7 linked regions of the Homo sapiens genome follow. Changing the gene in region 1 together with any one later gene gives a genetic interaction. Each region holds a gene or a part of one and is shown in the gene's direction. Other genes may lie near its edges.

Evidence for each region.
Region 2: changes in EP300 (region 1) and RAB5C together harm fitness more than expected from each alone (negative genetic interaction), as found in Homo sapiens cells (one large-scale study listed by BioGRID).
Region 3: changes in EP300 (region 1) and VPS45 together harm fitness less than expected from each alone (positive genetic interaction), as found in Homo sapiens cells (one large-scale study listed by BioGRID).
Region 4: of EP300 (region 1) and STAT6, changing one enhances a phenotype caused by changing the other (phenotypic enhancement), as found in Homo sapiens cells (one study listed by BioGRID).
Region 5: of EP300 (region 1) and MYOD1, changing one enhances a phenotype caused by changing the other (phenotypic enhancement), as found in Homo sapiens cells (one study listed by BioGRID).
Region 6: changes in EP300 (region 1) and VPS51 together harm fitness more than expected from each alone (negative genetic interaction), as found in Homo sapiens cells (one large-scale study listed by BioGRID).
Region 7: changes in EP300 (region 1) and DCAF7 together harm fitness less than expected from each alone (positive genetic interaction), as found in Homo sapiens cells (one large-scale study listed by BioGRID).

Annotation. Positions count from the first base shown.
Region 1 is NC_000022.11:41,095,592-41,099,091, forward strand, and holds part of EP300 (histone acetyltransferase p300), read left to right. Parts: intron 1-3,500. UniProt on the Homo sapiens protein: Functions as a histone acetyltransferase and regulates transcription via chromatin remodeling. Acetylates all four core histones in nucleosomes. Histone acetylation gives an epigenetic tag for transcriptional activation.
Region 2 is NC_000017.11:42,127,735-42,130,989, reverse strand, and holds part of RAB5C (ras-related protein Rab-5C), read left to right. Parts: intron 1-399; coding exon of another isoform or gene 400-487; coding exon 488-653; intron 654-2,189; coding exon 2,190-2,341; intron 2,342-2,606; coding exon 2,607-2,729; intron 2,730-3,255. UniProt on the Homo sapiens protein: The small GTPases Rab are key regulators of intracellular membrane trafficking, from the formation of transport vesicles to their fusion with membranes.
Region 3 is NC_000001.11:150,140,776-150,143,302, forward strand, and holds part of VPS45 (vacuolar protein sorting-associated protein 45), read left to right. Parts: intron 1-2,062; coding exon of another isoform or gene 2,063-2,156; intron 2,157-2,527. UniProt on the Homo sapiens protein: May play a role in vesicle-mediated protein trafficking from the Golgi stack through the trans-Golgi network.
Region 4 is NC_000012.12:57,104,863-57,108,362, reverse strand, and holds part of STAT6 (signal transducer and activator of transcription 6), read left to right. Parts: intron 1-63; 5' UTR 64-84; coding exon 85-200; intron 201-619; coding exon 620-758; intron 759-1,048; coding exon 1,049-1,132; intron 1,133-1,531; coding exon 1,532-1,670; intron 1,671-1,782; coding exon 1,783-1,835; intron 1,836-2,023; coding exon 2,024-2,172; intron 2,173-2,763; coding exon 2,764-2,895; intron 2,896-3,023; coding exon 3,024-3,212; intron 3,213-3,500. UniProt on the Homo sapiens protein: Carries out a dual function: signal transduction and activation of transcription. Involved in IL4/interleukin-4- and IL3/interleukin-3-mediated signaling.
Region 5 is NC_000011.10:17,718,352-17,722,370, forward strand, and holds MYOD1 (myoblast determination protein 1), read left to right. Parts: upstream 1-1,219; 5' UTR 1,220-1,431; coding exon 1,432-2,061; intron 2,062-2,550; coding exon 2,551-2,629; intron 2,630-2,903; coding exon 2,904-3,157; 3' UTR 3,158-3,785; downstream 3,786-4,019. UniProt on the Homo sapiens protein: Acts as a transcriptional activator that promotes transcription of muscle-specific target genes and plays a role in muscle differentiation. Together with MYF5 and MYOG, co-occupies muscle-specific gene promoter core region during myogenesis.
Region 6 is NC_000011.10:65,099,214-65,102,713, forward strand, and holds part of VPS51 (vacuolar protein sorting-associated protein 51 homolog), read left to right. Parts: intron 1-3,500. UniProt on the Homo sapiens protein: Acts as a component of the GARP complex that is involved in retrograde transport from early and late endosomes to the trans-Golgi network (TGN).
Region 7 is NC_000017.11:63,584,977-63,588,476, forward strand, and holds part of DCAF7 (DDB1- and CUL4-associated factor 7), read left to right. Parts: intron 1-234; coding exon 235-352; intron 353-3,500. UniProt on the Homo sapiens protein: Involved in craniofacial development. Acts upstream of the EDN1 pathway and is required for formation of the upper jaw equivalent, the palatoquadrate. The activity required for EDN1 pathway function differs between the first and second arches.

The DNA of each region.
Region 1 (3,500 bases):
TAACTTTTATTGGAGGCACATCACCTCTTAAAACTTTTAAGTTTCAAACTTGTAACTTTTGATTTTTGAGTTGTCACTTGGGTATTTTATAAATGTGAAAGAAAATTATTTCTTGATATTATGGTTTTTGTCTAGAACTGGTTGAAATAAGCCCGAAATTCTAGCACCTAAAACTTTTTTAAAAAAAGTGATTTAGGCTTGCAAATTTCGTGATGTAAATATATCCACCAAGAGCGTTCTAATGTCAGCTTTAAAGGAAAGAAAACTGGAATCCAATGGGATGACATGCTAAAGTGTTACAAATCAAATTATTACTTAAATCTCAACCTCTGAATTGCTGTTTAATACTCAGATATTCTCCTAAAAAATTTCCAGGTTGATTCAAATAACTTAGGTTAAACTCAACTTTTACGTGTTGGGATGGGGAAGAGAAGACTTATTTGTAGCCTTCACACCTTTATGTTCCTGTTTCAGTATTTGCATTTGATCCATTGAAATTTTTATTTCATTTGGTATGGTTAGGGTAAAACAAATCATTTGAGAAATGACATTTTGTTCTCCCTCTCCCTCCAAAAAAAAAAGATTATGAAAGCCACTTGTAAACTTTTTTTGTAAAAATGACCAAAAGACTGGAAAAGTTAATGTTAGGCAAATCCTGGAAATATCTTTTGGAGCTGTTTCTGATCATCTTGAGTGATGGAAATGATGAGGGTCATCTGTTGTCTTCATTACTCAGTGAACACGTTTTGTCACTGCTTGGTAAACGCTTAATGCCGTATGCACTTAAAAAGCACCTGGAAAGATAGGATTTTAGGATCTGGCATATAATTAAGTAGGGTAAAGATCCTTCTGGTCTTGGTACAGTTTTGTGGCCCTGGGTTTTGTGCTTTTTTGTTTTTTGAGTTTTTCCCCCATTTCAAAGACACAGGGCAGATAGTGTGTAAAGTATACCTGCTTTTTGACCAGTAGATTAATGTACACAGTGGAGAAGTGGTAAGGCTTTTTAAAATGTCAGCTCTACTTTTTTTTTTTTTTTTTTTTTTTGAGACAGAGGTTTGCTCTCGTTGCCCAGGCTGGAGTGCAGTAGCTCGATCTTGGCTCACTGCAATCTCAACCTCCCAGGTTCAAGCGATTCTCTGCTTCACCCTCCTCAGTAGCTGGGATTGCAGGTGTCCACAACCATGCCCAGCTAAGTTTTGTATTTTTTAGTGGAGACAGTATTTCACCATTTTGGCCAGGCTGGTCTCGAACTCCTGACCTCAGGTGATCCACCCGCCTCAGCCTCCCAAAGTGCTGGGAATACAGGCGTGAGCCACCATGCCCGGCTGTCAGCTCTATTTTCTTAAAATGCCATTGTGTTAGTGGTTCGTCATCCTAACCAAAACATTTTGATCAAGACCATTTATTTTCCAGCTCTGTAACTTGTGATATGCTATGTTTTATTTTATTTTGGCTTGAATGTTTACATAAGAGTTTGCTTCTGGAGTCTTGCAGATATAGCTCCTGATTTAGTGAGGCATTTCTCTCCTCAGTATTAAATTGCAAAACATTTTACTAAAGTGCTTTAAGTTTTTCTGGCAATTATTCTCAAGGCCTTGTAAGTTCATTTATAGGACTTCAAGAAGGTTGTCTCTGGTTGATAGTGAGATAAAGTGACTTTTAAGTTGTAAATCTTGAATGCGTTACAATATGGGGGTCTTATTCCAGCAGGAGTTCATCTTCTATAGCAGAGGTTGGAATTGTATTGGCATGTCCAGTGAATGGATAATAGGGAGGAGGGAGGAAAGGGTTTCTGCCTTGGTGGCCTTTTGGCATTATTTTGTGTTTTTCTTTGCTTTTCTCTCTCTTCTTTATTTAATAAAAACAAAAAAATGGAAACAGTTGAAAATTAATGCAAAGTGGTATTTGTAGGGACATTAAGTGGTAAATAGGAAAGAGAAAAAGAGTAGGAAGAGTGTTGCAGATACAAGTGGGAGTGTAAAATACTTTTTCCTGGTATATTTACAAAAACAATTTGAGAGTTATTCTGCCAATTCATATACCCAGCAATTAATGGAAAAGTAAAAGATGCTAGTTTTATGTTTGTCCAGATTTTAGGGTTTCCTTCTTTGAAGATTTCTAAAGTTGAATATTTTTTTAAGTGAGGCAAGCAGTAAAATTAATGGGCAAATGAAACCAATTATACCAAGTCTAAAATTTTTCTTTTTTTTTTGAGGCAGAGTCTCGCTTTGTAGCTGGGACTACAGGCGCCTGCCACCATGCCCAGCTAATTTTTTGTATTTTTAGTAGAGACGGGGTTTCACCATGTTGGCCATGATGGTCTCGATCTCCTGACCTTGTGAACCTCCCATCTCTGCCTCCCAAAGTGCTGGGATTACAGGCGTGAGCCACCGCGCCCAGCTAAAAATTTTTTTTTTTTTTAATACTTTTAAGTTTTAGGATACATGTGCACAACGTGCAGGTTTGTCACATATGTATACATGTGCCATGTTGGTGTGCTGCACCCATTAACTCGTCATTTAGCATTAGGTATATCTCCTAATGCTATCCCTCTCCCCTCCCTGCTAAAAAATTTTTTAACATTGAACTTCGCAGGTGATTTTTTTTCGCTTAATAGACGGTAGTTTCATTTTGAAATTTTCATGGGAAATTACTGCTCACTTTCCCAGAAGCGCTTAAGAGGATAAATAATAATTGAGGTGTTAAGCCTCTTCTGAGCAATTTGGATATAATTTGTTTTTAGATCTAGATTCTTTTTTATAAATGTCCCAAAGCAATTAGAAGTGATTGTTTTTTTTGAGACGGAGTCTCGCTCTGTCGCCCAGGCTGGAGTGCAGTGGCGCGATCTCGGGTCACTGCAAGCTCCGCCTCCCGGGTTCAAGCCATTCTCCTGCCTCAGCCTCCCGAGTAGCTGGGACTACAGGCGCCCGCCACCACACCCGGCTAATTTTTTGTATTTTTAGTAGAGACGGGGTTTCACCGTGTTAGCAAGGATGGTCTCCATACACTGACCTCGTGATCCGCCCACCTCAGCCTCCCAAAGTGCTGGGATTACAGGCGTGAGCCATAGCACCTGGCCCTAGAAGTAATTTTGTTGAGAGAGAGAGAGTAAAACTAAAAGTACTGAAAAGAGTAAGAGAGTAGCTAAGAGAATGAGTATTGGAGTCAGACTGCTAGAGTTCATAGCCCAGGCTTGTATTTATTAACTGTGAACTTTGGGCCAAATACTTAACCTGGCTCAACCTCCTCACATTTATTCCTAACCACAGCCCTGTAAGGTGGGTGCGCACCTTATAGGAATCCACCTTACTTACCCACCTTACAGGATTGTGGTTAGGAATAAATGAGAATTCTCTTTATCAGATGCTTAGGACTATGCTTGCTTCTGTGTAGTATGTGTTCATTGTTAACTGTTTTTAACTTTACTGCTAAATATATCAGAAGGAAAGCAGTGGTAGATGGTTTGGGGGTTGTTTTTGTTTTTTTGATTTGCAACGAAG
Region 2 (3,255 bases), on another chromosome or scaffold:
GCTTTTGTTTTGTTTTGTTTTGTTTTAATTTTGCCCCAAAAGCCTGTTGACTTAACTGTCACCAGGCTGTCACACATTCATTCATCGCCTGTGTGTGTTTATTTGTAGGTGAATGTACATATTTGGGATCCAGAAGTCAATGTGTTTGCTCAGAACCATGAGCCTGAAGTTGGGAGACCATTCTCCTCTTTACAGCTCAGATGGTGGTAGAGCCGGTAGACATCTAGTATAGCCCAGTGGGGCCTCCTGACCTCTAGTGGGGAGGGCAGGGAGGTGAGGTGAGGGGAAGCAGTCAGCTAGGTCTTCAGTGAGGCCAGAGGGAAAGATCTGTAATTTAAGAAGGACACAGCGGGTGACGGCCTCTGAACTAACTCAGTACTTCTCATTTCTCCCTTACAGTTGGAGGTCCCCCTCCCCACTAAGTGCCTCTTTGCATAGCACCAGTCCCCACCCGCACGCTCTCTGGACCACTACAGCTGGACGGGCAATGGCGGGTCGGGGAGGCGCAGCACGACCCAATGGACCAGCTGCTGGGAACAAGATCTGTCAATTTAAGCTGGTTCTGCTGGGGGAGTCTGCGGTAGGCAAATCCAGCCTCGTCCTCCGCTTTGTCAAGGGACAGTTTCACGAGTACCAGGAGAGCACAATTGGAGGTGAGTGGGCATGAGGGAGTCGGGGAGGGGCCTGAAGGTTGCCAAAGAAATGCTTTGACCTTGAGGAGATGGGAAGCTGCCTGCCTGCATTAGGGACTAAATGCGTCTGTGGTGGCAGCCCCACTTCCTCACCTGGGCCCTGGAATTGAGCCCAGCAACTGGTCTCCATGCCAGAGTCCCCTCAAGCATCGCTAGTAAGCATTTGCTGGGAGTGGAAAGCTAGCTTCCCATCCTGTTTCTGCCCCTTCTTGATCTGTGTGGCCTTGGCTGAGGCCCTTTCACTGCCCTGGCCTCATGGAGGGAGAGCTGACTCTGGATCTTTGAGGCCCCTTCTTACTATAATGGGTGGTCCATGTGCCCTGGCCTTTCCCACTTCCAGAAGAAGGAACAGCCTGGTGAGTCGGAGCTGGGTGATAGGTGGGTGTTTCTGAAGCTGACTTTACCCTTTCTGGAGCTCACAGCCTGTTGTTGATTTTCCAGTGGTCAGCATTTAGGATGTGAGTGAGGGTCTGGCCTCGGCCTCTTGCCTCCGTGGCTAACACACACATCAAGAGGCAGGGGCCAACGCTGGCCTTGGCCTTGAGTCATCCTTTCTCTACTCTCTTGGTAGGAGGTTTCTAGGCAGCTGGAAACAAAATGGGCCATGTCAGCAGTCTCCCTGCTGCCTCCTCAGCATTTGGGTCAGGAGCTGGAGAGGGGAAGTGAGGCAGTGCCCCATGTCCCTCAGTGAGCTGGGGGAGGGCAGACCAGGAAAGCAGCCTTCTACACATGGCTGTCCTGGGTTCTCTGCTGGGTCCAGGGGCAAAGGGGCCTTTTGCTGTCTGTCCCAGCTCTGGACTCCTCCTTTGAAGCATGTGTACAGGCACCCTGCATTCCCCTAAGGAGTCACCTCTTAGTGACTGAAGGTCAGGTCACAGGGTGGCCATACAGGAACAGGTCTGGGTCAGAGCTAGGGGCGGTGGCTAGCTGGAGTGCCTGGAGGTGGTAGGGGTGGTTGGGAAGCCGGCCACCCAGCCTCAGCCTGGTGGTGGAACAGTGTGTACTTCCCCAGCATAGCTAAGTGTGTGAGAATGTCCTTAGGAAACCCAAGGTCAGTGACACCCCTGGGCTGGAGCAAACTGAGGGGTGGAGCGGTCCCTAGCTGCTGGTCTGTTCTCTGAGTGGCGGAGGAGGAGGTCTGAGGGCGCTCACCCTTCTGTGCTTGGAGTAGGCTTCCCCTAGGCTTTCCCTCTCTTGCCCCTGCTGTGTTGCTCTTCAGAGAGTGGTCCTGAGATGGCTCAGTGCATGCAGGAGTCCCTTCTCCTGCCGTTGCCTGGGCTGGGTCTGCAAAGCCTGTGCAGACCCCGTCCCCCAGACACATACATAAAAATCCAAACTCCACCCCCCACTCAGGCCTGCTTTGGCTCCTGGCTTGAGGGTTCTCTGTGCCCATCTCAGTGGTGGGCTTCTGAGTGCCAGAGCCTAGAAGCAACAGTGGGATTGTGTGGGGTGGATTCCAACTCGCTCTTGCCCATGGACGCTCCTTCTCTCTTACAGCGGCCTTCCTCACACAGACTGTCTGCCTGGATGACACAACAGTCAAGTTTGAGATCTGGGACACAGCTGGACAGGAGCGGTATCACAGCCTGGCCCCCATGTACTATCGGGGGGCCCAGGCTGCCATCGTGGTCTATGACATCACCAACACAGTAAAGATTTCCCCTTGCTTCTTCCTTTGCCCTTCATCTTCTCAAAGTCCCAGGGATTGGGTTATCAGAGCCCTGATTTCAGGCCGCTTAACCCTCTGTTCCTGGGTGGGGGGTGGGCAGATTTCCTGTTTGGGGACATTGCATCAGAATCTTTAGGTGGCAATGTCTTAGATAATTTGGCTGTGCCAGCTTGAGAGTCTCTAATGGGTGGCCCTGGGCAGAATGCCTTCTCTGTCCCTTCGACATTCTGTCCCTGTCTCCTCAGGATACATTTGCACGGGCCAAGAACTGGGTGAAGGAGCTACAGAGGCAGGCCAGCCCCAACATCGTCATTGCACTCGCGGGTAACAAGGCAGACCTGGCCAGCAAGAGAGCCGTGGAATTCCAGGTGGGGAGATGACAGACTTGGGGGAAGGAGTGGAGTAAGCAGCTCCCCCCGGCCTCGCCTGGGATGCTCAGGGGCTTTGGGAAGGGCCATGCTAGGAGGCAACAGGGAAGCTTCCATCTGCTGTCCTCTCGTGCCTCAGGCATGGGCCTAACATGGCTCCTGTCTGTAATCCCAGTGCCTTGGGAGGCTGGAGTGGGAGGATCACTTGAGGCCAGGAGTTCGAGACCAGCCTAGGCGACACAGTAAGACTCTGTCTCTGCAAAAGATTTAAAAATTAGCTGGGCTTGGTGGCACGCACCTGTAGTCTCAGCTGCTCAGGAGGCTGAGGCACGAGGATTGTTTGAGCCCAGGAGTTTAAGATTGCAGTGATTGCAACACTGCACTCCAGCCTGAGCAAGAGTGAGGCCCCATCTCTTTAAAAAAAAAAAAAAAACAGCCAGGTGTGGTGGCACACACCTGTAATCCCAATACTCTGCAGGCTGAGGCGGGAGATCACTTGAGCTTAGGAGTTCGAGACCAGCATGGG
Region 3 (2,527 bases), on another chromosome or scaffold:
AAGCTTCATAAGCTTGCATGGAAAATGGACATACAGACAAATAAATTACAACACAGTATATTTACAAGATATGGAAGAATGAGTACGTAACTCTAAGGGGAAAGCAATGCAGTTGAGGAAAGCTTCCTAGAGGAGTAATAATGTGAGAGTTGGGTTTTTAAAGATGCATAGTTCCACCAAACAAAGTGTGAGATGGATGGGACAGCCTTTGAATAGCAGGTGCAAAAGCAAAGAAGTATGAAACATAGCAGTGGCTCTGAAAACTGCAAGCCGTGGAAGTTGAGAGGTGAGGAGCATTTTCAGTGTTTTAAGCTATTAATAATTTCATCTTATCCTTCTGCCTTACCCACTCCCATACTCCTAACTTCTCCAAGTAAGTGTTTGGCTGTAATTAGGAGCTTATTACTCCATTAAGACAAATATCTTGGGGTTTTTCTCATTATTTTCCTGAAAGTCTTTTTCTATTTTTCTGCTCCCCACAAGTTCTATTTTTTTAATTATTATAACACTATTCAGGTTCTAGATTCCCCTTGGTGTCTTTGGTATAAGAAATTCACATGTAATTTTTACCTGTGGAGTATAGTGAAAAAGGAGGAAGACATATCCTTAAATTATATACACATACACACACATAGTTTTTGTTACAGTATGATAGCTTTGTTTAGGAATAGAAACACAGTTGTTCAGCTGAATTATTTTAGTAATTAATATTTTTAATCCTATAAACATTGGTCTCTAGTCCCTTACCAGTGATGTAAGTGGAGAAGCTTGCTTTTCAGTGTGTGACTCAAGACTTCTCAAGGTTGACTTTTTAAAATCAGGGTTGGGGTTCTGCTTTTTTCCACCCACCTTCCTTCTATACATGGAGTCAGGAAAACACCCTTGATGACAGCACAAACTAAAAAAAGCAGTAGCATTAATCCACTCTGTTAGTTTCTGGCACTGCCTCTGTTTATACTCATATTGGATTGTGATTGTGTATCTGTCTCTGAGAGTCCCTTAAGGTAGGAATCATAACTAAGGTGTACATTTGTACACCTAGTTCAACACCTAGTTCATAATGGATGCTCATTAAACATTTGTTGAATTGGATTGAATTGAACTGAATTGAACTGGACTATGGCACCAACGGAGAAGGGGATTTTTGAGTTTGCTTTTAAGTGAGATTGATTTAAAATGAATTTAGAAAGAAAAATTATTCTTTTTGTTTTGTTTTTAAACATAGTCTAAATTTGGGGTACAGCTAGCAATATGTTCATTCGCCATAATTTTTTAAGCATTCTGAGCAATGACTCATTAGAGTCCCCAAATAGTTTTTTTTTAAGTCATAGTGGCCCTAGGAAACAAAATTAGGCTGGTAAATATAAATAGTAAGTGTGTTCTCATTATAGTCAGGAATGTGGGGTCTTGTTGATATACAGAGGAGGATCTTTATTTCTTCCCTTTGTAGCAGAGTTGGAAATGAACCAAAGATCCCCTGATAAAATTCCTATAGGGCTTCCCAGCACATTTATTTCATTCTTTCTAGAAGTCATCAAGACTTATTGTGTTATTGTTCAAAAAAAAATCAGTGCTACCTCATTTCCTAACACTTGTTTTCTGACCTCCAATTGTGTCTAGTCCAACTGGCCAAAAAGCCAGGCCAAAGATGTCTGTATTTCCATAGAGGAACAAATGAACTTAGCTTCTACTCCTTTCCCTCTACTTTGCAATTTTTTCTTTTGCAAAGGAGTTTGGAATTTAAATTCTCCAAGCCCAGAATCTTTCAATGCAAGATGGTAATAAAACTGCAAAACAATGGTAATAACTGGTCATTCCTCCAGTCCTCTGTCTTTTAAATATCTGTCTGCTCTGAGAGAGAGTCCTGAGCATCCAAATAACTTGTTGTTGTTGCTGTTGTTGTTGTTGAGACAGGGTTTCACTCCTGTCGCCCAGGTTGGAGTGCAATGGCACAATCTTGGCTCACTGCAACCTCTGCCTCCAGGCTCAAGCAATTCTTCTGCCTTAGCCTCCCAAGTAGCTGGGACTACAGGCACCTGTCTAATTTTTGTATTTTTTATAGAGATGGGGTTTCACTATGTTCCCCTGCCTGGTTTCGAACTCCTGGGCTCAAGCGATCCACCCGCCTCAGCCTCCCAAAGTGCTGGGATTACAGCGTAAGCCACTGCACCCGTCCATCCAAATAACTTTTATATTATAAAGAAGGCTGTCTTGCCAATGGGTAGCTATTTTATTCATTTACTCAGCATAACTTTATTGGATACCTCTGTGTTAAGCCCTGGAGATCTAAGGTGAGTAAGACTTCCCCCTACCTCCCAAGAAGCTCACAGTCTGTCTTGGCAACAATTATACAGTGCTAAGATAGGAGTGGGATAAAGTAATAACAGTAATTAGTTCAGCATGGAGGGGTCTGGAAGGGCTTTACAGAAAAAGTGACTTTTATGATTATGTATTTATGTATGTATGTATGAATGAGACCATGCCTGGCCAGAAAAGTGACTTTTAATCCTTAGTCTTGAAGAATAAG
Region 4 (3,500 bases), on another chromosome or scaffold:
GCCCCAGGAGATAGGCCAAGTTTCTTGGGCACCCCTCAGAGTGGCCTTATTTTTCTCCTCCAGGCAACCTCCAAGTCCCAGATCATGTCTCTGTGGGGTCTGGTCTCCAAGATGCCCCCAGAAAAAGTGCAGCGGCTCTATGTCGACTTTCCCCAACACCTGCGGCATCTTCTGGGTGACTGGCTGGAGAGCCAGCCCTGGTGAGTCCTGGCTGCTCCCTGCTGGTCCCCCAAGTCTTCCCTAACTCATCTTCCTTCTCCTTAGATTTTTCTCCCCTCACCCATGGATTCAGAACTTGAGACCTGTTATTCCATGTGTAGTGACCTAGATTTAGCAGGGAGTCTGTGCCCCATCAAGACCAGGCTATGAATGTTGACAGATGGAGACCCCATCTCTTAGGAGGCTGAGCCGAAGAGGAGGGGGGTTTGGGCTGGGACAAAGGCACTTCTCATAACAGCTAGAAGACTGGGAAACAAGGCGCATGGGTGAAAGCTACAGAGGGCCTAGATGGAGAATAAGGAGCGAGAAAGGAACTGCTGAGCTTTTGGCTGTGGGGTAAAGGGTCAGGAGAGCTGAGGAAGCCCTGGCCTGAGGTAGCCTCATCCTGATCTTCCTGCAGGGAGTTCCTGGTCGGCTCCGACGCCTTCTGCTGCAACTTGGCTAGTGCCCTACTTTCAGACACTGTCCAGCACCTTCAGGCCTCGGTGGGAGAGCAGGGGGAGGGGAGCACCATCTTGCAACACATCAGCACCCTTGAGGTGGGGCAGGAGGGGAGGGGACAAGGCTGGGTGGGGCTGAGGTTGAACTGGGTTGAGCATTGGGCCCTGGAAGAAAATTGGTTGGATGCTGGAAGCAAATTGGTGTTCCTGTGGTTAACTGCTAGCTAGCAGGCAAATTAGATTTTAAAAGCATGCAAATGCACAAAAACTTCTGGAGTCTACAGTTGTGCTTCCTTATAGTATATGTGTGAATGCAGGCCTGGGGATTGGAGGGATTGAAGGACATGGGTAAGAGCAAAGCTCACTGTTTACCACCCTCATTTCTGTAGAGCATATATCAGAGGGACCCCCTGAAGCTGGTGGCCACTTTCAGACAAATACTTCAAGGAGAGAAAAAAGCTGTTATGGAACAGGTATTGTGATATTCCACCTCCCACCCCAACTCAATCCCCTGAGACTTTGGCCTGAGCCATGACAAACTAGAAAGAATTTGAACCTCAGTAAAGGCTCAGTGTTCTAGGCCCAGGAATGACCAAAGGAGGTTCCTAGGGTCAGAGTGAACCCCAAGTCAAGCTCAGGGAATCTTTCTATGAGGGACTGAAGGTAAGAGGCCGGGGAGAACAGAGCAAGGGATAAGGAGCTGATTCTGCTAGGAGCAAGGTCTTATCTCCACGATATTCCAAAAGGTCAGGAAGAACTGCCAAAGGGGAGAGGGGAACAAGAAAACGCTATCTGCAGAGCAGAGAGTGGAGGCCAGGTATAGAGGGATGAGCAGAGTGTTTCACTTCTTGGCATCTGTCCTTCCTGTGTAGTTCCGCCACTTGCCAATGCCTTTCCACTGGAAGCAGGAAGAACTCAAGTTTAAGACAGGCTTGCGGAGGCTGCAGCACCGAGTAGGGGAGATCCACCTTCTCCGAGAAGCCCTGCAGAAGGGGGCTGAGGCTGGCCAAGGTGGGGGCCAGGGTGGTTCTGGGGAGTGTGTAGGAGTGGTTGCCTCTTGGATCTCAACCTTATCTGAACCTCTAATCTGTCTGCACCCTTGATTTCTGCCCCCAACCCTCAGTGTCTCTGCACAGCTTGATAGAAACTCCTGCTAATGGGACTGGGCCAAGTGAGGTGAGTAATGGGCTGACAGGTGGAGACCTTGGTCAAAGTGCAGCTGGAGGGATGGAAGCTAGACCTCAGAAAGACACAGGCTGAAGTAGGGCAAGGGAATGCCAGAGGAGTGAGAAAAAGAGCCGTATCCCAGGAGCTGGGTGTGGAGGCAGCGTGAGGCCCTGGCTCAGGCCCCTCTCTGCCCATAGGCCCTGGCCATGCTACTGCAGGAGACCACTGGAGAGCTAGAGGCAGCCAAAGCCCTAGTGCTGAAGAGGATCCAGATTTGGAAACGGCAGCAGCAGCTGGCAGGGAATGGCGCACCGTTTGAGGAGAGCCTGGCCCCACTCCAGGAGAGGTTGGGCTAGGGCTGATGGGGAAGAGGGGGCAAGCTGGGGGTGGGCAGCTGACCCTGCTGAAGGCCCTACAGGTGAGAGAAAGAAGCCAGGCGGGAGGGCCTTGGAGTGGACCAAGATGCATAAAAGCCAGTTCCAGCGGGGCTGTGCACACTGTCGTTCAGGTCGCATCCTGTACAAGTGGGCCTAGTGGAGGGGCACAAGCGGGGACTCATCCAACCCAGGCTTCTCTCCTCAAGCCCCATGCCTAGAGGAATAGGAGGGCTTTTCCATTTGGTTTATTGGGTGGGAACACTTTCCAATTTGCCACAAAGCACTGTAAGTGGTGGCAGTTGTCCTGGGTGCAAGAGCCGTCGGGGGAGAGGCAGCTGGGTTTCCACAGGGGGTGTAGGCACTGAGAATGAACCTCCCACCCAGACCCTAGGCCAACAGATCACAGAACCCCCTTCAGCCCAGGTGCCTTGCAGCCACACCCACTACCCACCCCACTTCTCCACACATGATAGCCTTTCTCCCTGGGTATAGGGGAAGGGGGTCTGGGCCGGAGCAAGCAGCCTTAATCCTGTGCCCCCTGACCACTGTCCTGGCCCCAGGTGTGAAAGCCTGGTGGACATTTATTCCCAGCTACAGCAGGAGGTAGGGGCGGCTGGTGGGGAGCTTGAGCCCAAGACCCGGGCATCGCTGACTGGCCGGCTGGATGAAGTCCTGAGAACCCTCGTCACCAGGTATTCCCCGGGAGCTCCCAGTCTGGCCTAGAACAGACCTCGGGAAGAAAAGAAGGGGGCTAGAGCTGTGGGGAGGGCACCAGCAGGGACCTAGCCCCCAACTCCCCTTGTGTCCTCCTCACTCCCAGTTGCTTCCTGGTGGAGAAGCAGCCCCCCCAGGTACTGAAGACTCAGACCAAGTTCCAGGCTGGAGTTCGATTCCTGTTGGGCTTGAGGTTCCTGGGGGCCCCAGCCAAGCCTCCGCTGGTCAGGGCCGACATGGTGACAGAGAAGCAGGCGCGGGAGCTGAGTGTGCCTCAGGGTCCTGGGGCTGGAGCGTAAGCTGGGATTGGACCTGGGGTTGGAGAAGGGCTGTTAGGGTGATGGAGGCAGCCTGGAGGGCTGGCACTGAAAAGAGCAAGGGATGGGGAGGGAGGGCCATGGGATGTGGAGACCCTGAATGGTCAAGGCAGAGGAAAGGGAGGGACCCATTTAGGGCTGGAATGGGGTGGGGGCATCATGATTTGGCCAAGATGGGGACTCCTCCCTTAAGAACCCAAACAGAGACATGGAGATTTAGGGCTGGTGACAGTGGGTAGTCTACACTCACCCATGCACTCGCCACA
Region 5 (4,019 bases), on another chromosome or scaffold:
AAGCCCCTTGCTCGAATAACCCTACATCACCGCCTGAGGGCTTCCATATCCTTGGTCTCTTCAGACTGTCATCCCCACCACAATTACTCCAAGAAATTACTGTCATCCCCAAATCTATAACTGGAAACTGAGGCTCAGGAAGGAGACATGACTTCCACAAAATCACACAGTTGGGAAACTCTGGAGTCTGCACTCAACTGGTCTGCAAACCGCACTCTCGGAGACTTCAGGTGAGATGAGGTCAGGTTCTCAGGCCAGGTCCTGAAGTTTGACACCTTGGCGAAATGCACTTTCCTTGACTCAGCACCGCGAGTGAGGCGGAGCCAAGCCCCGAGCAGAAGGGTTTTCTTCCCAGCTGAAGAGGCAGCTCAGCCTAGACCCCAGGCATGGCACTGGACACCCCTGCTGTGGAAACGTGCAGATTTAGATGGAGGGGATTCCTAACCTGGGCAGGATCCGAGTTTGGAGAGATTGGCGCGAAGCTTTAGCAGCAATCTCCGATTCCTGTACAACCATAGCTGGGTTTCTAAGCGTCTAGGGAAGAAGGACTGGGCCCACGACCTGCTGAGCAACTCCCAGGTCGGGGACTGGCGGAATATCAGAGCCTCTACGACCCGTTTGTCTCGGGCTCGCCCACTTCAACTCTCGGGGTCTCTCCGCCTGTTGTTGCACTCGTGCGTTTCTCTGCCCCTGACGCTCTAAGCTTTCTGCTTTCTGCGTGTCTCTCAGCCTCTTTCGGTCCCTCTTTCACGGTCTCACTCCTCAGCTCTGTGCCCCCAATGCCTTGCCTCTCTCCAAATCTCTCACGACCTGATTTCTACAGCCGCTCTACCCATGGGTCCCCCACAAATCAGGGGACAGAGGAGTATTGAAAGTCAGCTCAGAGGTGAGCGCGCGCAGCCAGCGTTTCCCGCGGATACAGCAGTCGGGTGTTGGAGAGGTTTGGAAAGGGCGTGCCGGAGAGCCAAGTGCAGCCGCCTAGGGCTGCCGGTCGCTCCCTCCCTCCCTGCCCGGTAGGGGACCTAGCGCGCACGCCAGTGTGGAGGGGCGGGCTGGCTGGCCAGTCTGCGGGCCCCTGCGGCCACCCCGGGGACCCCCCCAAGCCCCGCCCCGCAGTGTTCCTATTGGCCTCGGACTCCCCCTCCCCCAGCTGCCCGCCTGGGCTCCGGGGCGTTTAGGCTACTACGGATAAATAGCCCAGGGCGCCTGGCGAGAAGCTAGGGGTGAGGAAGCCCTGGGGCGCTGCCGCCGCTTTCCTTAACCACAAATCAGGCCGGACAGGAGAGGGAGGGGTGGGGGACAGTGGGTGGGCATTCAGACTGCCAGCACTTTGCTATCTACAGCCGGGGCTCCCGAGCGGCAGAAAGTTCCGGCCACTCTCTGCCGCTTGGGTTGGGCGAAGCCAGGACCGTGCCGCGCCACCGCCAGGATATGGAGCTACTGTCGCCACCGCTCCGCGACGTAGACCTGACGGCCCCCGACGGCTCTCTCTGCTCCTTTGCCACAACGGACGACTTCTATGACGACCCGTGTTTCGACTCCCCGGACCTGCGCTTCTTCGAAGACCTGGACCCGCGCCTGATGCACGTGGGCGCGCTCCTGAAACCCGAAGAGCACTCGCACTTCCCCGCGGCGGTGCACCCGGCCCCGGGCGCACGTGAGGACGAGCATGTGCGCGCGCCCAGCGGGCACCACCAGGCGGGCCGCTGCCTACTGTGGGCCTGCAAGGCGTGCAAGCGCAAGACCACCAACGCCGACCGCCGCAAGGCCGCCACCATGCGCGAGCGGCGCCGCCTGAGCAAAGTAAATGAGGCCTTTGAGACACTCAAGCGCTGCACGTCGAGCAATCCAAACCAGCGGTTGCCCAAGGTGGAGATCCTGCGCAACGCCATCCGCTATATCGAGGGCCTGCAGGCTCTGCTGCGCGACCAGGACGCCGCGCCCCCTGGCGCCGCAGCCGCCTTCTATGCGCCGGGCCCGCTGCCCCCGGGCCGCGGCGGCGAGCACTACAGCGGCGACTCCGACGCGTCCAGCCCGCGCTCCAACTGCTCCGACGGCATGGTAAGGCCGGGACCCCAGGAAGTGAGGAAGTTAGGGCGGCGCTCGGGATATCAGGGACGCGTTTCCGAGGGCGGGGAGCTGGCCTTGCGGGAGGTTTGGGCCAGGATCCTTCCCGAGAGAGAGGACCCCCTTGTCCTGGGCAGCTGTCACTGGGGTAGCCTGTTTTGGAAGTGTGCGGGCAAGCGTTCGAGCTGCCCCATTGGGGGCGCTATTAGAACACTGCAGCGCGAACGTGAAGATCTTTTTCTCTACTTATCCCTACTTCCAAAATGTAAATTTGCGCCCCTTGGTGACTGTCCGCCCTTGGTTTGGCCCTGCATGTTGCAGACCTCATCTCCTACCCACCCGTAATTACCCCCCCAACCAGGACAGGTCTGGGCCCGGAACTAGAGCCTTAGGCTAGAGTTAGGGAGGGGGCGGCTACAGGAATTGGTGTTCGGGCCTCGAGCCGTCCCGCGGGCCTGACTCAGTCGCCCTTGCTGTTTGCAGATGGACTACAGCGGCCCCCCGAGCGGCGCCCGGCGGCGGAACTGCTACGAAGGCGCCTACTACAACGAGGCGCCCAGCGGTGGGTATTCCGGGCCTCTCCCTGCTCGCTCCTCCTCCTTCATGGAGCTGTCCTGGCCTCTATCTAGGACGCTCCCACCCCCACTCACACACGCCTATGTCCTGGGAAGTGGTGCAGGAGATGAAATACTAAGCAAGTAGCTCCCTGTCTTTTGGATTGTCCCGGACTCTAACTAAAGTCCTCAGTTTCCAATCTGTCTCAAAGTACTGGGCCCGGGGGTGGGAGGCTTGTCGCGGCCCCACCCCTGCTTACTAACCGAGCCCTCCCCGCGCAGAACCCAGGCCCGGGAAGAGTGCGGCGGTGTCGAGCCTAGACTGCCTGTCCAGCATCGTGGAGCGCATCTCCACCGAGAGCCCTGCGGCGCCCGCCCTCCTGCTGGCGGACGTGCCTTCTGAGTCGCCTCCGCGCAGGCAAGAGGCTGCCGCCCCCAGCGAGGGAGAGAGCAGCGGCGACCCCACCCAGTCACCGGACGCCGCCCCGCAGTGCCCTGCGGGTGCGAACCCCAACCCGATATACCAGGTGCTCTGAGGGGATGGTGGCCGCCCACCCGCCCGAGGGATGGTGCCCCTAGGGTCCCTCGCGCCCAAAAGATTGAACTTAAATGCCCCCCTCCCAACAGCGCTTTAAAAGCGACCTCTCTTGAGGTAGGAGAGGCGGGAGAACTGAAGTTTCCGCCCCCGCCCCACAGGGCAAGGACACAGCGCGGTTTTTTCCACGCAGCACCCTTCTCGGAGACCCATTGCGATGGCCGCTCCGTGTTCCTCGGTGGGCCAGAGCTGAACCTTGAGGGGCTAGGTTCAGCTTTCTCGCGCCCTCCCCCATGGGGGTGAGACCCTCGCAGACCTAAGCCCTGCCCCGGGATGCACCGGTTATTTGGGGGGGCGTGAGACCCAGTGCACTCCGGTCCCAAATGTAGCAGGTGTAACCGTAACCCACCCCCAACCCGTTTCCCGGTTCAGGACCACTTTTTGTAATACTTTTGTAATCTATTCCTGTAAATAAGAGTTGCTTTGCCAGAGCAGGAGCCCCTGGGGCTGTATTTATCTCTGAGGCATGGTGTGTGGTGCTACAGGGAATTTGTACGTTTATACCGCAGGCGGGCGAGCCGCGGGCGCTCGCTCAGGTGATCAAAATAAAGGCGCTAATTTATACCGCCGTGGCTCCGGCTTTCCCTGGACATGGGTGTGGGATCCGGAGGAAAATCCGCAAACTGGGCCAGCTGTCCCTCAGCGACGCCTGTAGGCGGCAGGCGGATTGCAAGGAGGAAGCCTGCTGCCTGGGGAAGGAAGGAGGGGTGCAAATTTCTCCAGTACGTGAGGAAGTTCCTCTGACCTTGACTACATTACTACACACGTCCGTGGCTCTTATGGAAGGGTACACAGGTTGATAT
Region 6 (3,500 bases), on another chromosome or scaffold:
GGGCAAGAGAGAGAGAAAAATGAGAAAGGAACTAGGTCCTCAGGAAGGAGGGGGGTGGAACAGAGCAGGGATGGAGGCATCGGCCTCAGCAAAGGGCCGGGAGCTCATCTATGGTAGCAGGAGGGGAAGCAGAATGTGGGCAGAGCCAGGCAGATAGTAGATGTGCAGTTTAACTAGAAACCTTCCAGAATGTATTAGGGATTTGGCTTTTATCCACAGAGAGCTAAAACAAATGAGTGATGTGCTCAGATTTCTGGTTTGAATAGATTCCTCCAGCTGCACTGGCAGGAATGGATGGGGCTGAGCACAGTGGCTCATGCCTGTAATCCCTGCACTTTGGAAGGCTGAGGTGGGAGGATCACTTGAGCCCAGGAGTTTGAGACCAGCCTGTGCAACATAGTGAGACCCGATATCTAGAAAAAAAAAAATAGCTGGGTATGGTGGCACACACTTGTTAGAATAAACCCAGCTACTTGGGGAGGCTAAGGTGGGTGGATCACATGAGCCCAGGAGCTGGAGATTGCAGTGAGCTATAATCTCACCATTGCACTCTAGCCTGGGTGACAGAGCAAGACCTAGTCTCAAAAAATAAATAAATAAATAAAAAGGCCAGGTGCGGTGGCTTATGCCTATAATCTTAGCACTCTGAGAGGCCGAGACGGGTGGATCATCTGAGGTCAGGCATTTGAGACCAGGCTGGCCAATATGGTGAAACCCCATCTCTACTAAAAATACAAAAATTAGTCAGGCATGGTGGCAGGCATCTGTAGTCCCAGCTACTCAGGAGGCTGAGGCAGGAGAATCGCTTGAACCCAGGAGGCGGAGGTTGCAGTGAGTCGAGATCGCGCCACTGCACTCCAGCCTGGGCAACAGAGCGAGACTCCGTCTCAAAAATAATAATAATAATAAATAATAATAAAAGGACAGCCCACAGAATGGGAGAAAATATTTGCAAGTTAGTTATCTAATAAAAATCTAGTGTTCAGAACATAAAAAGAACGTTTTTTAGCTCAGGGCTAAAAAGACAAATAACCCTAATTTAAAATGGGCAAAGGATTTGAATAGACACTTCTCCAGAGAAAACATACAAGTGGCCGAAAAGCACATATAAATATGCTCAGCATCATTAGGTCTTAGGGAAATGCAAATCCAAACCACAAAATGCTGCACCCAGTGTGGAAGACAGTTTGACCATTCTTCAAAACCACACACAAGATTACCATATGATCGGCAATTTTACTCCTAGGAATATACCAAAGAGAATTGAAAACATGTTCACATAAAAACATGTACACAAGTGTTCATAGCAGTGTTTTTTTTTTTTTTTTTTTTTTTGAGATGGAGTCTAGCTCTGTCACCCAGGCTAGAGTGCAGTGGTGCCATCTTGGCTCACTGTAACCTCCGCCTCCCCAGTTCAAGCGATTCTCCTGCCTCAGCCTCCTGAGTAGCTGGGATTATAGGTGTGCACCATCACACCCGCCTAATTTTTTTATTTTTATTTTTTGTATATTTACTAGAGACGGGATTCCACCTTGTTGGCCAGGCTGGTCTTGAACTCCTGACCTCAAGTGATCCGCTTGCCTCGGCTTCCCAAAGTACTGGGATTACAGGCAAGAGCCACCATGCCTGGCCAATAGCAGCACTTTTTATAATAGCCACAAGGTGGAAGCAATCCAAATGGCCATCAATTGAATGAATATAAACAAATATCCACACAGTGGAATATTATTCAGCCATAAAAATAGATATAACATACTGACACAGGCTACAACATAGATTAACCTTGGAAACATGCTAATGTTTCATATGCCTATGATTCCATTTCTGTTAAATGTATTCTGTAGCGAATAGACAAATCCATAGAGACAGAAACTAGATTAATGGTTGCCAAGTTCTAGGAGTGGGGGAATAAGGAATGACTGCCAAGGGTTACAGGGTTTCTTTAGGGGATGATGAAATGTTCTGGAATTACGTAGTGAGGTTGGTTGTACAACCTTGTGAATATATTAAACATATTAAAAACCACTGAATTGGTATGTCAATTATATCCCAATTAAAAAGAAAACCAGGCATTGAGCCAGATTTGGCCTGCAGGCTGTAGTTTGCCAACCTCTCACCTAGACATTGAGTTTCATTATGTAATAATGCATTTACTTGTGTCAAAATTAGAAAGATCTCAAACATTATACAGGGAAAAGCCTCTCCTAATTCTTTTCTCTAGGCAAAGACAAAGCAGTCTTTGACAGTACATTTCACTGAAAATTAACAGAGCCCAGGTGGGATTATGGCTCATACCTATAATCCCAACACTTTGTGAGGCAGAGGCAGGCAGATTGCTTGAGCTCAGGAGTTCGAGACCATCCTGGCCAACAGGTTATACCTGTCTCTACAAAAAATACAAAAATTAGCTGGGTGTGGTGTTGTGTCCCTGTAGTCCGAGCTGCTCAGGAAGCTGAGGTGGAAGGCTTGTACCTGGGAGGCAGAGGTTGCAGTAAGCCAAGATTGTGTCACTGCACTCCAGCCTGGGTGACAGAGCCAGACCTTGTCTCAAAAAAAAAAAAAAAAAAAAAAAAAAAAAGAAAATTAACAGACATACAGAAAAGTGCACATAAGTGGACAGCTCCATGGATTTCACAAAGGGAGCACAGTCACATAATCAGCATCCAGGTCGGGAAACAGCATAACCAGCAAAGCCCCCTGAGCCTCCTACCAGTTACCACCCAGTCCCCTCCCAAGGTAGCCAACATCCTCGCATCCAGATGGCTTTCACTCTCCCTGGTTACAAACTGCTTTTCTTAACAAGCTTTTTTTTTTTTTTTTTTTTGAGACAGAGTCTTGCTCTGTCATCCAGGCTAGAGTGCAGTGGCCCAATCGGCTCACTGCAACCTCCGCCTCCGGGGTTCAAGTGATTCTCCTGTCTTAGGCTTCCAAGTACCTGGGATTACAGGCACCTGCCACCACACTTGGCTAATTATTGTATTTTCAGTAGAGACGGGATTTCACCATGTTGGTCAGGCAGGTGACCTCAGGTGATCCACCTGCCTTGGCCTCCCAAAGTGCTGGGGTTACAGGCGTGAGCCACTGTGCCCAGCCTGCTTTTCTTAACAAGCTTGAAATGCAAAGATAAACAGTGTAGTCTTTGTGACTGAATGGTGTGGATGCTTTCACTGTTGTTTTTGGATATGGTACAACTTTTATCTCCAGTGTAATGGCTCCATGGCTGGGAAGGCAGCGACAATGACAGCACACAGCACTGTTGGGTTTTCTTTTACTCTATTTTCCTAACAACTTAGTGTTTGGATTTTACCCTTTAGAAGTTGGATTCAAGCTTCCTTCTTGAGGTAGCCCCTAAGTGTCATGGGCTCAAACACCCACTACCAAAAGAGTCTGCTCTTTTCATGGTAGCTTTTGGCAGACCTGGAAGGAGATTGTGTCACATGGCCTGTAAACAAAACCAGTAATTCACTGGGTGAAGACCAAATGCCTCATCAACTGCCAAG
Region 7 (3,500 bases), on another chromosome or scaffold:
GTTTCTGCATCTCCCCTATCAGTCTAAAGGCCCAGTGTTGCTCAAGATAGAGACTATCAACTACCCGTGTCCTTTGTCTTCTTTTCCCTCAATCCTATGGAAATCCTGTCTCTAGTTCTTTAAATCCACAAATGAAAAATTATGCCTAAAAAGATTTTTGCATGTGGATAGTATTTTTTGTTTTTTTCTATGAAACTCTGATGATCCCAGGCCTTTTACTTGTTATTTCCGCAGGTGGTGATTCTAGATGTCCGGGTTCCCTGCACACCTGTCGCCAGGTTAAACAACCATCGAGCATGTGTCAATGGCATTGCTTGGGCCCCACATTCATCCTGCCACATCTGCACTGCAGGTAATCATGGTGGGGAGAAAGAAATCTGGGAAGGATGGAGGAAATCTGTTCTCTTGGCTCCTTAGAATTGTAGTTGTTACTGTTTTCTAAGCACAGTCTTGAGAGATTTATACAAAATGACTAGTTGGAGCCTCTCCACACTTGTGAAATTCAATCAGTACAAATTTTTAGACGATCTTGTACCCTCATGGACATCAGAACATCTTCCATATATGATTTACATCATGTGTCAGTTATAGGGCTGTGCCTTGTACTGTGCCCCTGAAATCTGGATGGCACAGAGGACTCAATTCCAGGAATATGGGGAAAGGGAGGCATCCCTCATGGATATAACAGAATCTTTGGGACTGTGAAGATCAACATCTCCATGGGACCTTTCAGGTTTCACTATAACAAACCCACAGTGTGCTCTGGATGCATCGGAGGGCCCCACAGAACTTTGCCTGGTTGTGGTTTGTGACTTGTGGTTTTCATTTCACTGTTTCCCAGACCAAAGCTAGCACCCCTTACGGGCTGGGTGCAGTGGTTCACGCCTGTAATCCCAGCACTTTGGGAGGCTGAGGCGGGTGGATCACCTGAGGTCAGGAGTTCGTGACCAGCCTGACAAACATGGTGAAACCCTGTCTCTACTAAAAATACAAAAAAAATTAGCCAGGCATGGTGGCACGCACCTGTAGTCCAAGCTACTTAGGAGGCTGAGGCAGGAGAAGCACTTCAACCCAGGAGGTGGAGGTTGCATTGACCAGAGATTATGCCACTGCCCTCCAGCCAGGGCAACAGAGCAAGACTCTGTCTCCAAAAAAAAAAAAAAAAAAAAAAAAGTACCCCTTAAAAATATGTTGGGCCAGGCACAGTGTTTCAGGCCTGTAATTGCAGCACTTTGGGAGGCTAAAGTGGGAGGATTGCTTGAGGCCAAGAGTTCAAGACCAGCCTGGGCAGTATAGTGAGACCTCATCTCTACAGAAAGTTAAAAAAAGACTATCTGGGTGTGGTGGTGAATTCCTGTAGTCCCAGCTACTTAGAGGCTGAGGTGAGAGGATCCCTTGAGCCCAGGAGTTTGAGGTTACAGTGAGCTGTGATTGTGCCACTGTACTCCAGCCTGGGCAACCAAGCAAGACCCTGCCTCTAAAATAAATTTTAAAAAAAGAAAAGAAAGGCTGGGTGCAGTGGCTCACATCTGTAATACCAGCACTTTGGGAGGCCGAGGCAGGTGGATCACGAGGTCAGGAGATCAAGACCATCCTGGCCAACATGGTGAAACCCTGTCTCTACTAAATACAAAAATTAGCTGGGCGTGGTGGCACATGCCTGTAGTCCCAGCTACTCGGGAGGCTGAGGCAGGAGAATCGCTTGAACCTGGGAGGTGGAGGTTGCAGTGAGCTGAGATCGTGCCACTACCCTCCAGCCTGGTGACAGAGTGAGACCCCGTCTCAAAAAAAAAAAAAGAAAAATATGCTGGTTGTCAATGCACTTTTATTGTAGAAATAATGCCAATCTGTTATTTAAATTGAAAACAGTACAGAAGCATATTTAAGAGCAAGGCGAAAGTCATCTTTTCTCCTTCCTATATCATTTCTGCCTCCATCCCCCTCTGCATAGATGACCTCTATCAACAGGTAATGTGTCTCCTTCCAGACCCTTTTGGTATACTTTCAGGGATGTACATCTATGCCCCCAAATACAACTATATACTTCTTCCTTTTGCACTGATAGGATTCTGTCCTAGTCCTGTGATGTTTTGCTCCTTAACTTTTTTAGTGTGTTTTTTTTCTTCTCCTCACTAATCAGGAGCCTTATAATGGACAAGGTTTGTTATGGAGCCCAAGAAGCAATGTACTCTGGTGTTTTTCTGCCATTTGAGCATTATTTGGAAGGCATGAAGCTTTTCCTGATTTTGGCCCTCTGCTCATGCCTGTATGTCTCCTTGAAGAGCAGCTGGGGGCCTGCTGCTGCCTTCTGTACCTCAGATTGTGGTCTGTCTTCTTCATTATTGCCCTCTTTTTTTTTTTTTCCCAGGGGTGTGGATAGGGAGGGATAGAAGAAGCAGAAAAGAAAGGTGTCATCCATTATTCATGGAAAGCAGGACTGGCCCCGTAGAAGCCCCATTTTCTGCTCCTGGCTGCTGCCTTTGTCTGGCTCGCTGTTGTTTTGTGTGTTGCACCTGCCTTGAGCCCCTTCAACCGAAGGAGCTGTTGCTCAAGTGTGCTCGGTTGAGCATTGAGGAAAAGGGCCTTAGTGCTCTAGAGGTGCAATTCCCTGACCTCTTGGCATTGATTGTCCCTGGGAGAGGGATCTTGCACCTGGCCCAGACTATGCGGCCTTGGCAGGAGACTAGTATTGCCCACAATTAGTCTATTAGGGTTTAGTTTATTCAGATTTTCTTTGTATCTGAGACCAGCTTTCATCAGAATGCATGGCAGAGTCAGGGTACACTGCAGCTCTGAAGGCCATTGCCTTATTTTTTTCTTTTTTAAAAATTAACTTACTATTTTGATTATAAAAGTAATATAGGCCAGGTGCGGTGGTTCATGCCTGTAATCCCAGCATTTTGGGAGGCCGAGGCAGGAGAATCGCTTGAACCTGGGAGGCTTTGGTTGCAGTGAGCCGAGATTGCACCATTGCACTCAAGCCTGGGCAACAGAATGAGACTCCATTTAAAAAAAAAAAAAAAAAAAAGTAATATGAGCACATTACGAATCACTTAGGAACTAGAGAAAAGTAAACATAAATCCTAACCTTGCCATCTTAGTATTGCCATCATTCTCATTTTAATATATTTCCTTCTACTTATTTTTCATGTGCTTTTATATATTTAAAGTGATTACCATCTTTCTGGTGTTTCCCATAGCTATTTTCTTGGATTTTTTTTTTTTTTTTGAGATGAAGTCTCACTCTGTCACCCATGCTGGAGTGCGGTGGTATGATCTCGGCTCACTGCAACCTCTGCCTCCCGAGTTAAAGCGATTCTCCTGCCTCAGCCACCGAAGTAGCTGGGATTACAGGTGTGTGCCACCACACCTGGCTAATTTGTATTTTTTTTTTTTTTTTAGTAGAGATGGGGTTTCACCATGTTGTCCAGGCTGGTCTTGAACTCCTGACCTCAGGTGATCCGCCTGCCTCAGCCTTCCAAAGTGTTGGGATTACAGGT